Linked DNA regions of Homo sapiens. The protein of the gene in region 2 purifies or fractionates together with the protein of the main gene of each other region. This does not show direct contact. Each region holds a gene or a part of one and is shown on either strand. Other genes may lie near its edges.

Region 1 (2,920 bases), on a different chromosome or scaffold from region 2:
CCGGTCCCCTCCCTAGCCAGGCCCATCTCTCCACTTCAGGTGGGTGGGAGGCCCCTGTGCCGCAGGCCCCTCCAGTTTGAAGGAGGCACTGCTGGTGCCAGTCTTGCAGGTCTCCCGAGGGCAGAAGGTGACCAGCCTAACGGCCTGCCTAGTGGACCAGAGCCTTCGTCTGGACTGCCGCCATGAGAATACCAGCAGTTCACCCATCCAGTACGAGTTCAGCCTGACCCGTGAGACAAAGAAGCACGTGCTCTTTGGCACTGTGGGGGTGCCTGAGCACACATACCGCTCCCGAACCAACTTCACCAGCAAATACAACATGAAGGTCCTCTACTTATCCGCCTTCACTAGCAAGGACGAGGGCACCTACACGTGTGCACTCCACCACTCTGGCCATTCCCCACCCATCTCCTCCCAGAACGTCACAGTGCTCAGAGGTGAGACAAGCCCCTAACAAGGTCAAGTGAGCTGGGAGAGCCAGGCTCGGGGACAGCAGGCAGTTCCCTTGGCTGGACTAGAGAGGAGAATAGCCCCATAACGCTCTCACCCTCTCCCAACTGCTGCCTGGTCAACTGGGGAACCATTGCCTTCGGTGTGAATGGGGTGAAGAGCTCAGGGCCAGACAGGCAGAGCAGTGTGGTTCCACCAGAACTGTGGGCAAGGCCTTTGGCCTCCCTAATCTTCCTTCTCCCAGCGGGAAAACAGGGATGACACCACCTCCCTCAGCCAGTTTTCTTGTCATGATGTTTAGTAAGGTTTTCATAAGATGATATGTGTGCAAGAGATCAGTAATCTGCAAATGGGAAAGATGGCTGGTTCTGTGAGACCGGGCTGTTCCTGGTCCCAGCTAAGACATTGCAGTACCCACCTCCCAAAGGGAGTACACCCTTGCTTTGGGCCTGTGCCTGCCTGAGTCCTGATCCGTCTTCCTTCCTACCCTGCCCCCGGCCCCCTTCTCTTTCTGCAGACAAACTGGTCAAGTGTGAGGGCATCAGCCTGCTGGCTCAGAACACCTCGTGGCTGCTGCTGCTCCTGCTCTCCCTCTCCCTCCTCCAGGCCACGGATTTCATGTCCCTGTGACTGGTGGGGCCCATGGAGGAGACAGGAAGCCTCAAGTTCCAGTGCAGAGATCCTACTTCTCTGAGTCAGCTGACCCCCTCCCCCCAATCCCTCAAACCTTGAGGAGAAGTGGGGACCCCACCCCTCATCAGGAGTTCCAGTGCTGCATGCGATTATCTACCCACGTCCACGCGGCCACCTCACCCTCTCCGCACACCTCTGGCTGTCTTTTTGTACTTTTTGTTCCAGAGCTGCTTCTGTCTGGTTTATTTAGGTTTTATCCTTCCTTTTCTTTGAGAGTTCGTGAAGAGGGAAGCCAGGATTGGGGACCTGATGGAGAGTGAGAGCATGTGAGGGGTAGTGGGATGGTGGGGTACCAGCCACTGGAGGGGTCATCCTTGCCCATCGGGACCAGAAACCTGGGAGAGACTTGGATGAGGAGTGGTTGGGCTGTGCCTGGGCCTAGCACGGACATGGTCTGTCCTGACAGCACTCCTCGGCAGGCATGGCTGGTGCCTGAAGACCCCAGATGTGAGGGCACCACCAAGAATTTGTGGCCTACCTTGTGAGGGAGAGAACTGAGCATCTCCAGCATTCTCAGCCACAACCAAAAAAAAATAAAAAGGGCAGCCCTCCTTACCACTGTGGAAGTCCCTCAGAGGCCTTGGGGCATGACCCAGTGAAGATGCAGGTTTGACCAGGAAAGCAGCGCTAGTGGAGGGTTGGAGAAGGAGGTAAAGGATGAGGGTTCATCATCCCTCCCTGCCTAAGGAAGCTAAAAGCATGGCCCTGCTGCCCCTCCCTGCCTCCACCCACAGTGGAGAGGGCTACAAAGGAGGACAAGACCCTCTCAGGCTGTCCCAAGCTCCCAAGAGCTTCCAGAGCTCTGACCCACAGCCTCCAAGTCAGGTGGGGTGGAGTCCCAGAGCTGCACAGGGTTTGGCCCAAGTTTCTAAGGGAGGCACTTCCTCCCCTCGCCCATCAGTGCCAGCCCCTGCTGGCTGGTGCCTGAGCCCCTCAGACAGCCCCCTGCCCCGCAGGCCTGCCTTCTCAGGGACTTCTGCGGGGCCTGAGGCAAGCCATGGAGTGAGACCCAGGAGCCGGACACTTCTCAGGAAATGGCTTTTCCCAACCCCCAGCCCCCACCCGGTGGTTCTTCCTGTTCTGTGACTGTGTATAGTGCCACCACAGCTTATGGCATCTCATTGAGGACAAAGAAAACTGCACAATAAAACCAAGCCTCTGGAATCTGTCCTCGTGTCCACCTGGCCTTCGCTCCTCCAGCAGTGCCTGCCTGCCCCCGCTTCGCTGGGGTCTCCACGGGTGAGGCTGGGGAACGCCACCTCTTCCTCTTCCCTGACTTCTCCCCAACCACTTAGTAGCAACGCTACCCCAGGGGCTAATGACTGCACACTGGGCTTCTTTTCAGAATGACCCTAACGAGACACATTTGCCCAAATAAACGAACATCCCATGTCTGCTGACTCACCTGGCTGGAACAACATGCTTACTGCCAACATGTGGGCCGAACCACATGGCCCTGGCTCTGGAATGCACAAGTGGCTTTGCGTGAATCTGCGCTAAGCTATGCAGTCTGCTTTTTCTTCTCAGCTCTGGTAGTTCTTCAGAAATGTACCCTCCAGGCACATCCACTATTGCGAGGGTGAGCACGAAGGGTGGGAGATGCCCATGTCCTCAAGGCATCACTTCCTAAATCCAAAAGCATCGGCAGGAGAAAGGACTGGGGACAAATACTGTCCCTTCGGGAGTAGGGAGGGAACACTGAGGCCCATCCCTGGCTCCTTCCCTAAAAGTAGAGTAAAATGGAAGCGAGCATCCTGGGATTGGGGGCAAGAGGGGG
Region 2 (3,822 bases):
GACACTCAACTACAGAGATGCATCCACAAAGAATTTACAGACCATAAATAACACTTGTCTGAGGCATTAATGATTGACACGGTCAAAAAGCAAATCTGCTGGCTGGGTAATCAGATCAGCACTCCTGACACCATGCCCACTGCTCTTCCTGAGATTGTATTTGACCTCTTCCCTTCAGCAGGTGATCCAAACTAAATTCACTTCCAGTTTTCAGTAATGGATAGTCCTCTGGTTGGCCTACTTAATATGTTTTCTCTGCTTTAAGCCACTGTTAAAATATGGAGACAAGGAGCCCAGACATGGAAAAACATTATACCAATGTAAAATGTAATGGAGAGTAGAGGGCTTTGGTCAACCAGATGCTCTTTAGTAAGAATAACTTTATATACAGGAGCTTCATAGTTGTTACATCTGCTTGGCTTCAGAAAATCATTCATTTTTGTCATATCTTATTTAACACCTATATGAAAGCAACTTATTAAAACGTTTGGTTTTCATGGAATTACTTCACCTATTAGAATAGAACATGTTCTGACTGGGCATGGCAATCACAAATCAACTGCATTTCATTCTGAAAAGATCTATTCTGCCAGGCATAGTGGCTCACGCCTGTAATCTCAGCACTTTGGGAGGTCGAGGTGGGTGGATCACTTGAGGTCAGGAGTTCAAGACCAGCCTGGCCAACATGGTGAAACCCCATCTCTACTAAAAATACAAAAATTAGCTGGGTGTGGTGGTGCGTGCCTGTAATCCCAGCTACTAGGGAGGCTGAGGCACAAGACTCGCTTGAACCCAGGAGGCAGAGGTTGCAGTAAGCCGAGATCACACCACTGCACTCCAGCCTGGGAGACAGAGTGAGACTCTGTCTCAAAAGAAAAATGATCTATTCTTTCATTGTGAATACGATGGTGTTCTGAAACCATCTCCCTTCCTGTAGGATAACTACTTACCTTGGTCACAGTTCCTGACAGCATTATGTGAACACAAAGGGGACTTTGTGGATCAAATCCATGTTTCTTGCAGAAGTTGGTCTGTGCCAAAGTCATGGTCAGTGTAGCATATGGATTCTCCTATAGAGAGAAAATGAAGATCCTCTCATGTGAAATATGGTTTCTGGAGAGGTAATAAATTTCAAAAGTTGCATACATGATGTCCCTAGAGCTTGACTGGTCTTCCACGAAACAATGAATCATAAAACATCACCTTCCACTCAGGGGAAAATAATACTTGGAAAGTATCCTGACCACTCCCCAAAGGGGGTGCGGGGGTTCATATTTAAAATGAACTGACTTGGTAAAAATTATTTCAATATTCTTTTTCTGAAACCCTGAATTTATTCCATATTCATCAGAAGAATTATAATTATAGTGACACCCAAATTCAAGGCTGTTCTATAGGCTTCACTGAAAGATTTAAAGGGTTAAACTCTATACAAAACCATTGCTAAAAACACCACAGTTGCTCAATTGGCTAACTACGCGATTTAAGCAAGAAAGTAGCTGAATCATGCTACTTGGTTATCTTACATTAGCAGAAACTGTCATGTGATTTCAAAACTGGAGAAGTTGTTCATTCCTGCTTTAGTAACAATGAGTTTTATCCCACATTCAAAAAGTAACACAAGTAAAATTCTTAATGCTTTCTTATTCAGAAATCAACTTCATAAAAGGCACTGTTGACAGATTATAGCAAAATTCACACATCGCATTTTAGACTATTTAGCTCTTTAAGCTCTAAGTGCCTTGTGTGGAGAATTTTGCCATTTCACACTGACCCATCAAAACAAAGAGTCATAAAGAGATTTCTTTGAAATCATTTAGCCAAATAGTCACTGTCTAGAAACTATTAGGCAAGGCACCACAGGAGACCAAAGAAGGGGAGGGGGACACTCAGGTAAACTCTCTCCCTCCGTGAGTTTATAATCTGGTTGAAAAGGCAGACATAAACAAATGTGTATGTCCAGCATAGACCAGAGTGATAGAGGAACTGTAAGGAGCTTTATAATATATTCAAAACCAGGATAGAAGGTGGGAGGACATATTAAAGGGAGAGGAGACACTGACTGCAAAAAACACAGAACTGGGTGAGCCTAAGACTTGATGAACAGTACCAAGAAACCTGATTTGCTGGAAAGAAGGGCTTTCCTACGGGAGGAGCCTGGGGTTGGGAGTGGAGAGGGCTCCAACCTAAGTTAAGGAGTCTAGATTGTAATTTGTGGGCCAACCTTAGGCACTGTTTTCTAAGAACCACCTGCCTGGAGAGCTTGATAAAATGCTGATTTGGGTTAAAATGTTGAAACAGGCTTCACTCCCAACCCAAATAACTGCAATTTTTTTTTGTTTTTTTTTTTTGAGACGGAGTCTTGCTCTGTCACCCAGGCTGGAGTGCAGTGGTGCGATCTCAGCTCACTGCAACCTCCAACTCCCAAGTTCAAGCGATTCTCTTGCCTCAGCCTCCCGAGTAGCTGGGATTACTGGTGTGTGCCACCACGCCCAGCTGATTTTTGTATTTTTAGTAGAGACTGGGTTTCATCATGTTGGCCAAGCTGGTCTTGAACTCCTGACCTTGTGATCCACCCACCTCGGCCTCCCAAAGTGCTGGGATTACAGGCGTGAGACACCGCACCTGGCCTGCAATATTTTTTTTAAGACAGTGTCTCACTCTGTCACCCAGGCAGCCACCCAGTGCAGTGGCACAATCATGGCTCATTGTGGCCTCAACCTCCAGGGCTCATGTGATCCTCCCATCTCATCCTCCTGAGTAGCTGGAACTATAGATGTGCATCACCACACCCGGCTAATATTTTTTTATTTTTTGTAGACATGGAGTTTCACTGTGTTGCCCTGGCTGGTCTCAAAATCCTAGACTCAAGTGATCCTCCCACCTCGGCCTTCCAAAGTGTTGGGATTACAGGCATGAGCCACCAAGCTGTCCTCTATCTGCATTTTATTATTTAGAAACAGAATCAAGCTCTGTCACCCAGGCTGGAGTGCAATGGCGTGATCTCAGCTCACTGCAACCTCTGCCTCCCAGGCTCAACTGATGCTCTCAACTCAGCCTCCCAAATAGCTGGGACTACGGTCGTACACCACCATACCCAGTTAATTTTTGTATTTTTAGTAGAGGTGGGTTTCACCATATTGGCCAGGCTGGTCTCAAACTCCTGACCTCAGGTGATCCGCTCACCTCGACCTCCCAAAGTGCTGGGATTACAGGCTGGAGCCTCCGCACCCGCCTCTATATGCATTTTAAACAAACATCCCAGGTAGCTCTTACGCAGCTATAGGCAGCTGGGTATTGTTAAAGGTTTCTGGCCAGAGGGCAATGCTGTGACAGGTATTTTTGTTAATCTATTTGGGTAGGCAAGGTGGATGGGGCAGACAGGAAGACTATGTAAGAGCTGTTCTAGTACTTTTAGGCATGAGATGATAAGCTTAAGGATGAGGTGGCAGGAATGAAGAGGAAGGGGCAAGGACAGAGGTAAAGAAGGCAACAAAAAACTGTCAGGACTTGGGAACTGAGGGATTTGGGGAGGCAGTGAGAACCAACTGGGTTTACTGAGAAAACAATAATTCCACTAACAGAAATGCAGAAGATCAAAAGCAGCTTGTTTCAGGAGGAAGAAGGACTGGATTTAAACATGTTGAATTTGAAGTGGTGGCAAAGTAACGAAGCAAAAATGAACAGCAAGCAGAAATATAGAGAACTTTGAAGAGGTCAGAAATGGACACACATCTGGAAGTGAGTCCTAGTAAGGACTAGAAGAGAATGTATACAACGAGAGTGTATACAATCTTCTGAGGATCGCTGCAGGGAACAAAA

What was found.
Region 1: the proteins of CREG1 (region 2) and THY1 purify together in Homo sapiens (co-immunoprecipitation; one large-scale study listed by IntAct). This does not show direct contact.

The regions. Positions count from the first base shown.
Region 1 is NC_000011.10:119,417,568-119,420,487, reverse strand, and holds part of THY1 (thy-1 membrane glycoprotein isoform 1 preproprotein), read left to right. Parts: intron 1-101; coding exon 102-437; intron 438-967; coding exon 968-1,080; 3' UTR 1,081-2,920. UniProt on the Homo sapiens protein: May play a role in cell-cell or cell-ligand interactions during synaptogenesis and other events in the brain.
Region 2 is NC_000001.11:167,547,052-167,550,873, forward strand, and holds part of CREG1 (protein CREG1 precursor), read right to left. Parts: intron 1,071-3,822; coding exon 951-1,070; intron 1-950.